Homo sapiens: one gene and its partners. The protein of the gene in region 1 interacts with the protein of each later gene in a pairwise test. Each region holds a gene or a part of one and is shown in the gene's direction. Other genes may lie near its edges.

Region 1 (3,019 bases):
ACTTTATTGAGTCTTTTCCAGAGTTCCCCTGAGTGTACTCAAAGTACTTTTGAGGGTTTTCCCCAGTCTCCTCTCCAGATTCCTCAGAGTCCTCCTGAAGGGGAGAATACCCATTCTCCTCTCCAGATTGTTCCAAGTCTTCCTGAGTGGGAGGACTCCCTGTCTCCTCACTACTTTCCTCAGAGCCCTCCTCAGGGGGAGGACTCCCTATCTCCTCACTACTTTCCTCAGAGCCCTCCTCAGGGGGAGGACTCCCTGTCTCCTCACTACTTTCCTCAGAGCCCTCAGGGGGAGGACTCCCTGTCTCCTCACTACTTTCCTCAGAGCCCTCCTCAGGGGGAGGACTCCATGTCTCCTCTCTACTTTCCTCAGAGTCCTCTTCAGGGGGAGGAATTCCAGTCTTCTCTCCAGAGCCCTGTGAGCATCTGCTCCTCCTCCACTCCATCCAGTCTTCCCCAGAGTTTCCCTGAGAGTTCTCAGAGTCCTCCTGAGGGGCCTGTCCAGTCTCCTCTCCATAGTCCTCAGAGCCCTCCTGAGGGGATGCACTCCCAATCTCCTCTCCAGAGTCCTGAGAGTGCTCCTGAGGGGGAGGATTCCCTGTCTCCTCTCCAAATTCCTCAGAGTCCTCTTGAGGGAGAGGACTCCCTGTCTTCTCTCCATTTTCCTCAGAGTCCTCCTGAGTGGGAGGACTCCCTCTCTCCTCTCCACTTTCCTCAGTTTCCTCCTCAGGGGGAGGACTTCCAGTCTTCTCTCCAGAGTCCTGTGAGTATCTGCTCCTCCTCCACTTCTTTGAGTCTTCCCCAGAGTTTCCCTGAGAGTCCTCAGAGTCCTCCTGAGGGGCCTGCTCAGTCTCCTCTCCAGAGACCTGTCAGCTCCTTCTTCTCCTACACTTTAGCGAGTCTTCTCCAAAGTTCCCATGAGAGTCCTCAGAGTCCTCCTGAGGGGCCTGCCCAGTCTCCTCTCCAGAGTCCTGTGAGCTCCTTCCCCTCCTCCACTTCATCGAGTCTTTCCCAGAGTTCTCCTGTGAGCTCCTTCCCCTCCTCCACTTCATCGAGTCTTTCCAAGAGTTCCCCTGAGAGTCCTCTCCAGAGTCCTGTGATCTCCTTCTCCTCCTCCACTTCATTGAGCCCATTCAGTGAAGAGTCCAGCAGCCCAGTAGATGAATATACAAGTTCCTCAGACACCTTGCTAGAGAGTGATTCCTTGACAGACAGCGAGTCCTTGATAGAGAGCGAGCCCTTGTTCACTTATACACTGGATGAAAAGGTGGACGAGTTGGCGCGGTTTCTTCTCCTCAAATATCAAGTGAAGCAGCCTATCACAAAGGCAGAGATGCTGACGAATGTCATCAGCAGGTACACGGGCTACTTTCCTGTGATCTTCAGGAAAGCCCGTGAGTTCATAGAGATACTTTTTGGCATTTCCCTGAGAGAAGTGGACCCTGATGACTCCTATGTCTTTGTAAACACATTAGACCTCACCTCTGAGGGGTGTCTGAGTGATGAGCAGGGCATGTCCCAGAACCGCCTCCTGATTCTTATTCTGAGTATCATCTTCATAAAGGGCACCTATGCCTCTGAGGAGGTCATCTGGGATGTGCTGAGTGGAATAGGGGTGCGTGCTGGGAGGGAGCACTTTGCCTTTGGGGAGCCCAGGGAGCTCCTCACTAAAGTTTGGGTGCAGGAACATTACCTAGAGTACCGGGAGGTGCCCAACTCTTCTCCTCCTCGTTACGAATTCCTGTGGGGTCCAAGAGCTCATTCAGAAGTCATTAAGAGGAAAGTAGTAGAGTTTTTGGCCATGCTAAAGAATACCGTCCCTATTACCTTTCCATCCTCTTACAAGGATGCTTTGAAAGATGTGGAAGAGAGAGCCCAGGCCATAATTGACACCACAGATGATTCGACTGCCACAGAAAGTGCAAGCTCCAGTGTCATGTCCCCCAGCTTCTCTTCTGAGTGAAGTCTAGGGCAGATTCTTCCCTCTGAGTTTGAAGGGGGCAGTCGAGTTTCTACGTGGTGGAGGGCCTGGTTGAGGCTGGAGAGAACACAGTGCTATTTGCATTTCTGTTCCATATGGGTAGTTATGGGGTTTACCTGTTTTACTTTTGGGTATTTTTCAAATGCTTTTCCTATTAATAACAGGTTTAAATAGCTTCAGAATCCTAGTTTATGCACATGAGTCGCACATGTATTGCTGTTTTTCTGGTTTAAGAGTAACAGTTTGATATTTTGTAAAAACAAAAACACACCCAAACACACCACATTGGGAAAACCTTCTGCCTCATTTTGTGATGTGTCACAGGTTAATGTGGTGTTACTGTAGGAATTTTCTTGAAACTGTGAAGGAACTCTGCAGTTAAATAGTGGAATAAAGTAAAGGATTGTTAATGTTTGCATTTCCTCAGGTCCTTTAGTCTGTTGTTCTTGAAAACTAAAGATACATACCTGGTTTGCTTGGCTTACGTAAGAAAGTAGAAGAAAGTAAACTGTAATAAATAAAAGTGTCAGTGACTCATTTATTTGATGAACATTGTATCAGCATTTGCTCATAGAAATTACTGTTAGTAGTGAAGTTACCATTAAAAGCAAGACTCATCCCTAACCCTAAAACGGTAGAGTGTAGGTCCAGAAGCCATATCAGGAATGTGGTAAGATTTTCTCTACAATCTAAAGAATAAGTTTAAAAAGGAGTGGGGAGGTGAGACTCCAGATGGAGCCTTTGATTAAAAAGGCCCTGAGCTAAGGCAGTTTTGGGCTTTGGGCAACTGTAGGTGCTTCTGTGGGAGCTGATCGTTATGAAGCTGGGTGGTGGCAGGGCCCAGACTCTCAGAAGGTGAGAGAAAAGCCTGGAAAGGAAAACCACTTGAGCAGTTCCCTCTGGGTGGAGGATGAATCAGAGAGGAGTCTCCACACGGAGAATTAATGGAAGGTGTTCTGTGGCTCTGTAACTGGTGAGCTTGAACACAGTGCAAGGACTAGGTGATTGATACCCATCATCTGCAAGTTTTCCTGAGAAT
Region 2 (7,038 bases), on another chromosome or scaffold:
TTTGATAATAACTTTAAGCATTATTTCAGATTACCTTACGGAAAAGTGTGGAATCAGCATTAAGACAGTTAGAAAGAGAAAAGGCGCTTCTTCAGCACAAAAATGCAGAATATCAGAGGAAAGCTGATCATGAAGCAGACAAAAAACGAAATTTGGAAAATGATGGTTTGTGGTGTAGAATATTAATTACTCATCAAGAAAAAAATTAAGTGTGTGTATGTGTGTTATGCTAAGCTTGCCACTGAAATGCTTTTTATCATAGTTAACAGCTTAAAAGATCAACTTGAAGATTTGAAAAAAAGAAATCAAAACTCTCAAATATCCACTGAGAAAGTGAATCAACTCCAGAGACAAGTAGGTGGATCTAATTTGTAGTAAAGATACTGGGTTTTATTTTTAACGCGATAACATTAGTTTTAATTGACAGTGTTGCAAAAGGCCTTTACCTCTAATTTTAGAAATCATTTGGAAAATATTTTTAGGTTTTTGTTTATTTTAAATAGTTTCTAATGGGGGAATACATTGACTTATTTTCATTACATACATGTGTGTTTGTTTGTTGTTGTTTGGTTTTGAATGGAATAACAGCTGGATGAAACCAATGCTTTACTGCGAACAGAGTCTGATACTGCAGCCCGGTTAAGGAAAACCCAGGCAGAAAGTTCAAAACAGATTCAGCAGCTGGAATCTAACAATAGAGATCTACAAGATAAAAACTGCCTGCTGGAGACTGCCAAGTTAAAACTTGAAAAGGAATTTATCAATCTTCAGTCAGCTCTAGAATCTGAAAGGAGGGATCGAACCCATGGATCAGAGATAATTAATGATTTACAAGGTATTGAAGTCGTGGTTGCACTTGAATTAATTTTGATGATTCTTATTTTAAAAATAACTTTAGATGATGGATAGTGTGCTGGATTGGACATTTCTGAATATACTATTATGTAAAGTTAGAATATTAGAAATACACTGATACAAAATTTTAGGAACAAAAGATTTAATTTCAAATAGTATGATTTTAAGTATTAAACTCTTCAGGTAGTAGATTGGATTCCATTTGAATTAACTATAAAGCACAATACCAACAAGTATAAAACTTCTGCTCACAAACAACAGCTCCAAAATAGAAGGTGGCTTGCAAACTTTTTATTCCTAATTGAATGTATATACTTTGTGGGTTTAATGTTTTAAAAAAACGTTGCAATTTTTAGGTAGAATATGTGGCCTAGAAGAAGATTTAAAGAACGGCAAAATCTTACTAGCGAAAGTAGAACTGGAGAAGAGACAACTTCAGGAGAGATTTACTGATTTGGAAAAGGTAAAACATGTTTTATATTTTTGCATAAGAAAATTGACAGTAGACTTTCAGGTTAGAAAAGTTATTCTAAACTAAGGGAAGTCACTAACTGGAATATTTCCACATGCTCATGGATTCCTTTTGATTTGGACTTGATGTGTAGATAAGAGATGTATCTGCAGGCTTACCATAACACTGTACAAGCAGCCCTCAGCATGCTGGTTGCTCATGAAGTAAGGGGACCCATCCTGGAGTGTAGATAATGAGGATCTCTCTAGGACCCAAGGAAAACTCAAATTTCGACTCATAACATGTCTTAAAAATGCCATATATAAAGTCACCATGACTTTTGGCATTTAGAAGTTTTTCTTTTAAAATACTCTAAGAAAGGGATGATTTCTAGAGTCTATGCAGTTAGCATTTTATTTTCATTCACTTATTTATTTACTCAGCTAAATATTCAGTGTGTTATATGTGGTAGAAATATCAGGATGCAGTCCTTGCCTTGAATAATGTCACAGTTGAATAGTTAAGTTTAAAAGTAATAATAAAGCACAAAGATAATTCTAATGACAGTATGGCAAATAGAATGATAAGACTTATGGACAGGGTATATGTATTGGGTGTATGGGATGCATCCCTAACCTGACAGCAGGATAGGTCCGTAGGGCAAAGGCACATTCTAAGTTAGGGAGAACAGCATGAGCAAAGACATAGAAGATGGAAAATAAAAAAGGCATTGTTTGTTTTCTGGAGTATAGAGTGGGAGTCAGCAAATTTTAATCGTTTAAAGGCATGGTAATAAATATTTTATCTTCTGTGGGTTATATGGTCTTGCAACTGTTCAGCCCTGCTGTGATTCATGAAGGAATGGATGTGGCTACGTTCCAGTGAAACTTAAAAAAGAAAAAGGCATCAGGTTAGATTGGCCTGAAGATCACAATGTGGTTGTTATGTAAGGACATGAGGAATTCAGTGGTCAGAATGAGGCTACAGAGCTCGGCATGAGGTAGATCATGCAAGATAGCGAATACTCTATTAAGAAATTTTGAATGTAGTAATGGGCTAGCCACTTAAGGGCTTTAAATTGGATGATCTTATTAGAGGTACATTAAAGATAGATCGCTGTATACTGTGTGGAGAAAAGATTTGAGGAGGACAAGACTAGAGGTAGAGAGACTGGTCAGTAGACTTTTTCAGTAATGCTGATAAGGAATAATGGGAGACTTAGTACAGCCATTAAAAGGTTGGAAAAATTGGAAGACTCAGAAATATTTGGAAGAGGAATATTTGGCAGCACTTAATAGTTGATTAGATATGGCATATGAGTAGCAGTCAAAGATGAGTCCCAGATTTGTAGGTTGTGACAAGATATATAGTGATGCTGTTAATAAAGAATAAAGGAAAAATAGCTCATGAGACAGTGATAAACCCACTTTAGTCCTCTTAAGTTTGAGGGTACCTATGGGACAGCCAAATTAGCATGTCTGCACTGCAGTAGGCTATAGTAGTAGAAGTTAGAAATATTTGAGTCATTGGTATGTAAGTAGCTGAAATCATGTGAGTGGAATAGCCCATCTGGGAAAAGACTGTGTGAAGTAGTGATTTTTTTTTTTCTTTTTTAGGACAGAGTAGATTACTCTGTTGGTGGATTATGTGGTTTGAGAAATCATTTTTTGTATGAAAGGCTTTATTTGGAAAAAAGCCTTTATCATATTTATGATATGAACTATAAAAATCAAAGAATTAGAAAACCTTTGGGGTTTATGTAGAAAATAGGAGGAGTATTGGGGCTTAGATCACCAACATTTAAGGGACAGCTGGGAAAGCTTCAGGAGCAACAGAAAGGATGCAAGCAGAATGGAGAGAACCAACTAAGTACAAGGTCGGCAATGCCAAGGGATAGTTTTAAGGGGGGCAGTGAGTTCAAATAAGACTGAAAAGGGTCTTTAGAATTTGATATTGAGAATAGCATTGGTCTTTTTGTTGAGATTAAGTGAGCTTGATACAGATCTCAGAACAGCAGAGTGGTGGTGTAGACTGTTGGGTACAGTGGGAAGTAGAGAAGTAGAGTATATAGATTACTATTCTAAAAGGTTTGAGTGAAGACGGGAGGGGAAATACTGAACATTCTAGTTAAGCCTGTTAAAAAACAAGTTAAGGTTGAGCACCATGGCCCACACCTATAATCTCAGCACTGTGGGAGGCTGAGTCGGGAGGATCACTTGAGCCCAGGAGTTCAAGATCAGTGTAGGCAGTGTTTAATGAGACCTTGTCTCTACATTAAAAATAAAATAAAATAAATTAGCCAGGAGTGGTGACAAACTTCTATAGTCCCAGCTACTTTGGAGGCCAAGGTGGGAGGATTGCTTGAGCCTGGGGAGGTTGAGGCTGCAATGAGCCATAATCAAACCACTGCACTTCAGCCTGGGTAACAGAGCAAGACTCTGTCTCAAAAAAAAAAAAAAATTAGAAAGCTTTTGAAATTGTGAGCTAGTCTCTTTTTTGTTGATAGCTGCATTTTAAATATTTAATAGGAAAAAAGCAACATGGAAATAGATATGACATACCAACTAAAAGTTATACAGCAGAGCCTAGAACAAGAAGAAGCTGAACATAAGGCCACAAAGGCACGACTAGCAGATAAAAATAAGATCTATGAGTCCATCGAAGAAGCCAAATCAGAAGCCATGAAAGGTATGCATTTTTTAAAGAGGGTTTTCCAGCAGCGTCTTCCTAAGAATTGATTCTGTGTTAGCTTTTTGGTTTTGAAACATTTTTTTTTATATTTCATTGTCAAATATTGGGAATTGGAGGGAAAAAAACTATTAGGGAAGCTTTACATAGATATTCTATTATTTTTCCTTTGTATCATTACAGTAATCATTTCTAAGATAGTAAGACCCAAACACAAAATTACATGATCAGATTTTTAGATCAGAGATAAATTAATATTTCTCAATATTATATACCTGGTAATATCTGTACCACTCGGTATACGTGTATCAGTAGTAAGAAGGAATATCTGAACTTCACACGCTGTATACCTGTTACTATTGATACAGGTAATTCTTGTAATACAAGAGTTTTGTATTATAAAATTCTTGCCAGTTTATGCAAGGTAAGAATTTAAAAGTAATAGCTGGTCTAACTAGAATATAAGTTCACTGAGTATTTTGATCTCTAACATGATGAAGATACTAGCCAGATTTGGTCGAAGCCATATAATACTAATAGATAACAAAGTTAACCTTCCCATAAACTAGACTTTATCCTGGAATTGTCTTAGGATAATTTTTTCTTTTCCAAACTGACTGTTTATAATGACTCTGAAATTCCAGAGAAAATCAGTACTTTAAGCTATTCTTGTGAAAGGCTTAAAACTCTTGAACAGAAATTTATTTTCATATTGAAGCATTACATGAGTAACTAACTTAGAAAAAATAGCCTTTTAATTATTGCATGTAATTAAAATGGTAGATTTTCTTAGTAAAAATCAGTGTAGTTTAAGGCACTAAATCAGGATGATAAGAAATGAAATGAGTACTTTATTTACAAAAATCTAATTGTAAGGGAGAAAGTTACTGGGCCATATTTCCTTGTCTGTGGCCTAGAAGACAGAGTTCAATTATTTTCATTGAGGTATAATTTACATGCAATAATAAAATGTAAACATTTTTGACATTTCGTGATATGCTCACATAACTACTGTTCAAAACAAGATAAAGAATATATCAGGCTAGGCATGGTGGCTCACATCTGTAATCCTAGCACTTTGGGAGGCCAGGGTGGGAGGATCTCTTGAGCCCAGGAGTTTGAGACCGGCATGGGCAACATAGCAAGACCCTATCTCTACAAAAAATAGAAAAATTAGCTGGATGTAGTCGCGTGCGCCTATAGTCAGAGCTACTTGGGAGTAGGACTCTCAGTATTCCTGCAATGATGCAGGAACATTGCTTGAGCCCAGGAGTTCAAGGCTGCAGTGAGCCATGATTGCATCACTGCACTTGAGCCTCAGTAGCAGAGCAAGACCCCATCTCAAAAAAAAAAAAAGGACTATTTTCATTATCTCAGTAATGCCTCTTTCTATTCTCAATGCCTACATTATGGTGATTGTTTTTTTTGTTAAATGAGGACATTTGTTTAGTGATTATTCTCTGAATTGATAAAAATGAACCAATTCAGTATTAACTACCATTTTTTTCAAACTATTAAAACGCTAATGTAAGATACATGATGACTTCCATATTTTACACATGAGTACACAAAACTGTTACATATTATAGATGGTTTCAAATCTGAGGCTAAAGCCTTTGGTCCTTCTGTTGCATGTCATTGGCTCCTTGGATTAAGAACATGGCTCACCAAATAATTACTAGCTATGTGACCTTGTCTAGTTATTTAAACTTTCTGTGTCTTGTTTCCTGTGAAGGGACAATTACAGTATTGTTACGTTGTTGTGAAAATCAAGTGCAATAAAACATGTAAAGTGTTTAGAAATGCTATTATTAGTACTACATGGGGAATGTTTCATTTTTCTGCACTTTTGAAGACCATTCATTAAACACTAAATATTCATAGGTTTAATTTTTACCTAATACAACTTTATAATAGATGATAATTAGATGTTGAGCATTAATTATGAAAAAGCAGAGGAGCCTTAATTGAATGTGAACTGAAGTACTAACCAGTATATCAAGATAATCCTTTAACTGTGATGACTTACATTTAACACTGAAATCACTTGGAACTTTGCCTTCTGATAAGTAAAATAGATTAAAAATTTATTGTAAATAATTTAGAAAACACAGGAAAGTATAAAGAAAAAAGCAAAGATTACTCATAATCCTATGAGTTAGGATACTATTTTGTAAATTTTCTCCACTTTCTATACCGTTTTGCTTTTTAAAAAACAAGACATTGTGAGCGTTTCCTTGGTCATTAAAAATTCTGCTTAAATAATAAGCACTTACCAAGTGCTTGCCATATGCCAGGCAGCATTTAAGTGGTACACATGTATTAAATCTTCACAACCTCCCTAGGTGCTGTTATCCCTATTCTGGAGATAAGGAAACAGGTCCAGAGAGGTGAATTACTTGCCCAGTCAAACAGTGTTAGACCCAGGGTTTAAGCTCAGAAAGTTTGGTTCCAGAGTCTTGTCCTTTACCACCTCCCTAAAACATATTTTTCAACACCTGCATAATAATGTGTTAACATGGAAAGTCCTATGGAGATCATAGAATCTACCTGGATTGTTTTAAGGTAAAAATAGTAACACTGAGAGACATAGAATAGCAGTAAGCAGTAGAATATAAGAAACCTTTGTTTAAAGATGTAAGCATCTTGTAGAATATAAATAAAGGTAGAACTATCTTGCTTCCATTAGAATAGATGTAATATTGCAGAGTGTGATACATTTTTACACCCTGTGAATGAAACTCCTAATTTTCAAGTATGAAAGTGAAAATATTAAATTGAAAATTAAGGCCAGGTGCAGTGGCTCATGCCTGTAATTCCAGCACTTTGGGTGGCCGAGGCGGGTGGATTGCATGAGGCCAGGAGTTTGAGACCAGCCTGGCCAACATGGCAAAACCCCATCTCTACTAAAAATACAAAACTTAGCTGGGTGTGGTGGCACACGCCTGTAATCCGAGTTATGTCTGGAGGCCGAGGCACGAGAATTGCTTGAATCCAGGAGGTTACAAAGAGCTGAGATTGCGTCACTGCACTCCGGCCTGGGC
Region 3 (7,252 bases), on another chromosome or scaffold:
GCGCTCAGTGATGCACGCCTCCCATCTGCTCAGGAGGCTTCGGCAGAAAGATCACTTGAGCCTGGGAATTCAAGGCTACAAATGTGCTATGATTACACCTCTGAATAGCCACTGCACTCCAGCCTGGGCAACATACCAAGACCACGTCTCTAAAAAACCAAAACGAAACAAAAAAAAAAAAAAAAGAAAAACAAACACAAATCAGGGCACTGACATGTACAGTTGTTTCTTGAAACTGATGGACTGACAAGACAGCAATATGATTGGTGGATCAGACAAAGTTACCAACCTAATAGAACAACAAGTCCTAAGGTCAAGATTAATTGTTATGTAACAAATCCTGGCTGTCCACTGGATATTGCTTTCAAAATAAGAGTCCATAGAGGGCAGAGGGGATAGATAGTAATATAAAAGGTATTTGTTAATACCGAAAAGACTGAGAAAAAACACTTCCCTTTCCAATGTGAAGGACTAAATAATCCAAACTTTTCCCACTATAAAACACAGACTTTTCTAAGTCATTGGATGTGGGGCTCTGGGGTAGCCTGAGCTGTTTGTCCCACACCAAGATGCTTCAAAACATTATTAAAAATGTTTGGATCCCCATGAAGCCCTATTATAACCAAGTTTATCAGGAGATTTGAGTAGGAATGGGGTTAATGAGCCTCATCATTTATAAAATCAGGAGTACTGATAAAATAAGTAAAATATTGAAAGCTTCTCCACCTGCTTATGGTCATCACTAACCAGCTTCACTTAGCATGCACATGAAATGAAACATTAGTCGACCTGTGAATTTAAGCAAGCTATGTTAGAAAGGAACCTGGAAAATCACTGTACACTTATATAAGTACCACTTACTTTGTGGCATGAATAAGTATACCAAAAAAAAACACCCAGAAATGCCAGATAAAATACAATAAATATCATTTTAAGCTGGGTGTGGTGGTACGAGACTGTAATCCCATCTACTTGAGGAGCTGAGGCAGAAAGGCTGCTTGAGTCCAGGAGTTCAAGGCTGCAGTGAGCTACGATTATGCCTGTGAATAGCCACTGCACTCCAGCCTGGACAGCATAGTGAGACCTTTTCTGTTAATACAAAAAGACAAAAAGCAGCGAGGCACAGTGGCTCATGCCTGTAATCCCAGCACTTTGGGAGGCCAAAATGGGAGGATTGATTGAGCCCAAGAATTCAAGACCAACCTGGGCAACATAGCTCCCTATCTCTAAAAAAAAAGAAGAAAAAACAAGAAAAATCTTTTTAAATGGGTGGATGCCAGGCATGGGGGCTCACACCTGTAATCCCAGCACTTTGGGAGGCTGAGGTGGGAGGATCACTTGAGGCCAGGTGTTTGAGACCAGCCTGGCAACATAGGGAGACCTCTGTCTCTACAAAAAATTTAACAATGAGCCAAGTGTGGTGGCCCACTCCTGTAGTCCCAGCTACTCGGAAGGCTGAGACGGGAGGATCCCCTGAGCCCAGGAGTCTGAGGTTGTAGTGAACTGACTGCACCACTGTACTCCAATGTGGGCAACAGAGTGAGACCCTGTCTCAATAAAATAGAATACAATAAATGCATGGAATATGGAGGAGGGAAGGTTTTTCTTTTAATCTTATACCCAATTATAGTTTGTATGTTTTGTTTTTGCTTCTTTTTTTTTTTTAAGACAGAATCTCACTCTGTTGCCCAGGTTGGAGTGCAGTGGTGTGATCTCAGCTCACTACAACCTCCACCTCCTGGGTTCAAGCGATTCTTGCACCTCAGCCTCCTGAGTAGCTGGGATTACAGCTGCCCACAACCACGCCTGGCTAATTTTTGTATTTTTAGTAGAGACAGGGTTTCACCATGTTGGCCAGGCTGGTCTTGAACTCCTGACCTCAGGTGACCCACCCACCTCAGCCTCCTAAAGTGCTGGGATTACAGGCATGAGCCACCGGGCCTGGCTAGTTTGTATGTTTTGATTTTGTGTATATATTAGTTTTATTTTTGCTAAGGCATGTTTTTAATTTTTGTTATTGTGCTTTGTTTTCATTTTCATTATTTATTTTGAGTAAGTTATACTTAAAACAAAAATCAAGATTCAAAAAGTATAAAAGGGGCCAGGCATGGTGGTTCACACCTGTAATCCCAGCACTTTGGAAGGCCAAGGTGGACAAATCGCCTGAGCTCAGGAGTTCGAGACCAACCTTGGCAACATGGCAAAACCCCGTCTCTACAAGAAATACAAAAATTAGCCAATGTTGTGGCATGTACCTGTGGTCCCAGCTACTCAGGAGGGTGAGGTGGAAGGATCACCTGAGCCCGGGAGGCAGAAGCTGCAGTGAGCCAAGATACTGCCACTGCACTCCAATCTGGGCAACAACAACATCCTGTGTCCAAAAACGTATAACAGGTCAAACCGTAAAACTTGTCTCTCTTACCCTTATTCCCAGCCTCTCGGTTCTTCTTCCCTATCCTTCCAAAGATGTTTTATGTAAATACAATCAAATATACACATGCATACTCTTATCCCCCTTGTTAACACAAATTTTTGTTTTCTTTATTATTTCTTTCAATAGAGGTGGGGTTTTGCTATGTTGGCTAGGTTGGTCTTGAACTCCTGGCCTCAAGCAATCCTCCTGTCTCGGCCTCCCAAAGTGCTAGGTTCATGAGCATGAGCCACCAGACCCGGCCAAATTTTAGCTTTCTTTACACACTATTCTGCATTTTGACTTGTTTCATATACCAATAGATTTTGAAGATTGTTTCATATCAATGCATAAACAGTTTCCTGTGTTTTGTTATAGCTGCATAGTATTCAGATTATTGATGTACCTTTTTTTTTTTTTTAAGTAGAGATAGGGGCTTGCTATATTTCCCAGGCTGGTTTCAAACTCCTGGCTTCCAGGGACCTACCTGCCTTGGCCTTCCAAAGTGTTGGAATAATAGGGTGAGCCACCACACACAGCCCCATAATTTATTTAACCAACCCTCTATTGATGGATATTGAGACTGTGATATAGTTTGGGTGTTGGATCCCTCCAAATCTCACGTTGAAATATGATTCCCAATGTTGGAGGTGGGCCCTGTTGGGAGGTGACTGGATCATGGGGACAGATCCCTTGTGAATGGTTTAGCACCATCCCCTTGGCGATAAACTGGGACCTCCCCACCTAATTTTCTTGTTCCTATTCTCGCCATGTGACATGCTGGATCCCTGTCACCTTCAGCCATGATTGTAAGCTTCCTGAGGCCTCACCAGAAGCACATGACAGCACCATGTGCTTCCAGTCTTTTGCTATTATAAACAATGCTGCAATGTACAGCCATGAACACGTGTCATTTCACAGCTGTGTGGATTTATCTGTAGGTTAAATTTCTAAAATTGGAATTTCTGGGGCAATGAGCTTGTGCATTTATAATTTTGATATAAATTACCAGTTGCTTTTCATTTAAAGACATTCACATCAGCAATGTGAGAGTGCTTTGTATATACTGTGTTTAAGAGAATAATTTTTTTTTTTGGGACGCAGTTTCGCTCATTGCCCAGCCTGGAGTGCAGTGGCGCGATCTCAGCTCACTGAACCTGTGCCTTCCGAGTTCAAGTGATTCTCCTGCCTCAGCCTCCCAAGTAGCTGGGATTACAGGCGCCCGCCACCACGCCCAGCTAATTTTTTTGAATGTTTAACAGAGACAGGGTTTCGTCATGGTGAAACCCTGCCTCTACTAAAAATACAAAAAAAATTAGTTGGGCGTGGTGGCGCGTCCCTGTAATCCCAGCTACTTGGGAGGTTGAGGCAGGAGAATCGCTTGAACCCGGAGGCGGAGGTTACAGTGAGCCAAGATCAAGGCACAGCACTCCAACCTGGGCGACACAGCGAGACTCCGTCTCAAAAAAAAAAAAAAAAAAAAAAAGTGAGGCGCAAATGGGAGGTGAAGCAGTGAGGTTCGCAAGTGTAGACACGCTCAAGGGACTCATTAAATGTCATTTCATTTAAAAAATGAAATTGAGCATATGTGCAAGCAAGGTTCACACACCCCATTTAATCTTCACACCACCACGGGGTAGTCACTATTATCCCCATTTTACAGGATTAAAACACTGACGCTGGGAGGTTGACAGAGTTACACCAAATCACACAGAGGAGCTGGGCTTCCCCCGACCTCCTCCGCTCAAGTCTCCCTGTCCCCGGGAGGTGCGGAAGGAGGCAACAGACGCTTGGCCCATAGGTGGAGCAATTGGCGAAGGCTTCGCCCGACGCCGGAACTGCGAGCTCTCAGCGGGAGCCGAGACGGTGCAGGGCCGGAGAAGCACCTTCACTCCCAGCCTGCGCCCCGATGCTGCGCGTTCTGTGCCTCCTGCGCCCCTGGAGGCCCCTTCGGGCCCGCGGCTGCGCTTCCGACGGGGCGGCCGGGGGCTCAGAGATCCAAGTGCGCGCCCTGGCGGGTCCGGACCAAGGTAAATGTGCAGTTCCGGGGCGGCGCATGACGCGACTGGGACTAGGCCGGAGGCAGCGGGGGACCGGCAGGTGGGCCGCTCAGTGCGTTGAAGGATTCGATCCCCAGTCCCTCCCTCCCAGTTCTAGGCGCCCCAAACCGCTCCAGGCCTGAGAGGTGGGCGGCCGCCTTAGTGGCTCCAGACTCTAGCTGGGGGCGGGGGGCCTCTGGCAACCTCGGTCTCTTCAAAGGCCCTTTGGGGTCTTCCGACTGTGTGGAAGGGGGAGCGGGGTCCGCACGGGTAGGACTGGGCCCCGCGGCCCCCAGGCCAGGAGCGTTTAAGTGCGCGTTCCCCTCCCCCGCCAAGGGTCCTGGCCCGGTTCGGGGGCGGAGGCAGCGGAGCCAGTCCCAGTGCCCAGTGCGGCAGCGGGCAGAGTGAGGAGGGTGCCTCTCCAGCCGCGCGCCCGCCCTGGGCCGCTAGCGAACCTTTGCGTCCTTCTGGCTCCAGGGAAAAGTTCGCTGTTTCTCCGCCTTTTGGCCAAGATCAAGGATAGTATGGAGCGGGGACGAGGGGTGGGGGGCAAAGTTCGCGGGTCACTGGCAGAAAACGCCTCTGATCGCGTGTTGCGTTTTTGTTGTTGTTGTTGTTTGAACTTCTGGAGCATTCAGTGGTGCTGATAACGCTCCTCAGTCCTCTGCTGGTAACCATCAGGGCTAGGCGCTTCTCCTGCCTTGGGTCTCCTCCCCGCATCTCATCCCCTGTCTCCTGCATTTGATACACAGATGGCATTGTACTGTACATTTCGTTGTATTGCTTCTTTTTTTTTTTTAACAAAAGTTTATTCTTAAATGTACAACAGCTCCAAGACAACACTTAATTCCAGCCATAGGTGGCAAAAGATGTTATGGCAGGGAATAGAGAGGTTTAAATACTGATGAAATAAAGGGTCACCATCTCCTTAGGCACAGGGAACAGCTTACTTTTTGCCAGATTTCTTAATTCCACTTGTGGCCAAGGGCCCCTTCCCCGTGGCCTTCCATTTTAGCTCCTCGAGTTTCTTCTGCTCCTCTTTTTGTTTCTGCTTGAAAGCCTTATCTTCCTCGTCCATCTCCTTGGCCTGCATTCTTGGGCTGTTTCAGTGGCTTCTTGCCACCTTCGTGGCCGGACATGGCGCCTGCCGCCCCTTCCCCAGCAGTATTGCTTCCTTTTTACCGGCTTGACAACAAGTTTGAAGCGGGGCTTTGCCATAAAATCCAGTTCCTTGCTCCCTGCTGTTGCCCACTGTTCCCAAGTGTGCATCTACCACCTTCAGTGGACACGGACAGGCCACCTAGAGTCCCACTGCACCACTTGGTGAGAATTTCCTTGAACAGTTAATATTGCTGAACCTTATACCCCCAATCTCATGCTTAGTTCACTACCCAACTGGCAACAGCTCTTAAGACAGTCAAGATTATTCTCCCCACTTTACAGATTAAAAAACTGAGGCACAGAAGGTTAAGTTATTTGAACCAGGTCTGATTTCAAAGCCTGTGTTCTCAACCATTAGGTAATCACTGGCTCTTCTAGTAATTCAGTGACTCAAAATACAGACTTGTACATGTGTAAACACAAAATTATCATGGGTTAAAGACCTTTAGGCTCACTTGCAAATATCGGGAATCATTTTATCCAAAAAAGAATGACAAGGATCAGCAGATTAAGCCTCTGCCCCTGCCAGAGGGCTCAAAGGGCAGGAAAAGGCAGTGAGAGAAGGAGAGACAGAAACCAAGATGACAGTGCAGAGGAGGCATGGGGATGAGATCACACACGGAGCCCTCACAGGGAATGAGTTGGGGTCATTTGATGTTCATATTAGAAGCTGCAGGTTCTGCCTTCCACTGGGGCTGATGGCACAAGAGCACTGTTACATTTTACCTGCTGCCTTTGAGCTTGAGGTTGGGTGGTAAACCATTCTTCACTGTTCTTAGCGGCTTTATTTCTCATAGAGTCATGTGTTGCTTAACAACGGGGCTACATTCTGAGAAATGCATCATTAGGTGATTGTGGTCATTGTGGGAGCATCACAGAGTGCACCTACACAGTCCTAGATGGGGTAGCCTACTGCACACCAAGGCTACATGGTGTATAGCCTGTTGCTCCTAGAATACAAACCTGGACAGCATGGTACCGGGCTGAATACTGTAGGCAACTGTAACACAATGGTAAATGTGTATCTGAACATAGAAAAGGCACAGTAAAAATACAGTCTAAAAGATTTTTTAAATAGTACACCTGTACTGGGCAGTTACCATAAATGGAGCTTGCAGGACTGGAAGCTGCACTGGGTGAGTCAGCGAGTGAATGGTGAGTGAATGTGAAGGCCTAGGACAGCAGGGACTGGTTTGGCACCAGGGACTATTTTCATGAAAGACAGTTTTTCCATGGACTTGCGGGCGGACAGATGGTTTGGGGATGAAACTGTTCCACCTCAGATCATCAGGCATTAGATTCTCATAAGGAGCTCGCAACAACCTAGATTCCTCACATGCACAGTTCACAATAGGGTTCGCACTCCTATGAGATTCTAATGCCACCACTGATCTGATAGGAGGTGGAACTCAGGTGGTAATTCAAGCCATGGGGAGCTGCTGTAAATACAGATGAAGCTGCTCATCTCCTGTTGTGTGGCCCAGTTCCTAGCAGGCCACAGACTGGGATGGGTCCACAGCCCGGGGGTTGGGGACCCCTGGCCTAGGACATTACTGTACACTACTATAGACTCTATAACACTGTACACCTAGGCTACACTAAATTTGCTTTACAAATGTTTCTTTCTTCAATGATAAATTAA

What was found. Proteins that work in one complex are often made in the same cells at the same time.
Region 2: the proteins of MAGEC1 (region 1) and ROCK2 interact in a two-hybrid assay, tested with the Homo sapiens proteins (one study listed by BioGRID).
Region 3: the proteins of MAGEC1 (region 1) and ECHDC2 interact in a two-hybrid assay, tested with the Homo sapiens proteins (one study listed by BioGRID and IntAct).

Annotation. Positions count from the first base shown.
Region 1 is NC_000023.11:141,906,872-141,909,890, forward strand, and holds the end of MAGEC1 (melanoma-associated antigen C1), read left to right. Parts: coding exon 1-1,962; 3' UTR 1,963-2,503; downstream 2,504-3,019.
Region 2 is NC_000002.12:11,208,637-11,215,674, reverse strand, and holds part of ROCK2 (rho-associated protein kinase 2), read left to right. Parts: intron 1-29; coding exon 30-165; intron 166-262; coding exon 263-354; intron 355-588; coding exon 589-835; intron 836-1,211; coding exon 1,212-1,318; intron 1,319-3,834; coding exon 3,835-3,994; intron 3,995-7,038. UniProt on the Homo sapiens protein: Protein kinase which is a key regulator of actin cytoskeleton and cell polarity.
Region 3 is NC_000001.11:52,918,741-52,925,992, reverse strand, and holds the start of ECHDC2 (enoyl-CoA hydratase domain-containing protein 2, mitochondrial), read left to right. Parts: upstream 1-4,252; 5' UTR 4,253-4,319; coding exon 4,320-4,440; exon of another isoform or gene 4,441-7,252.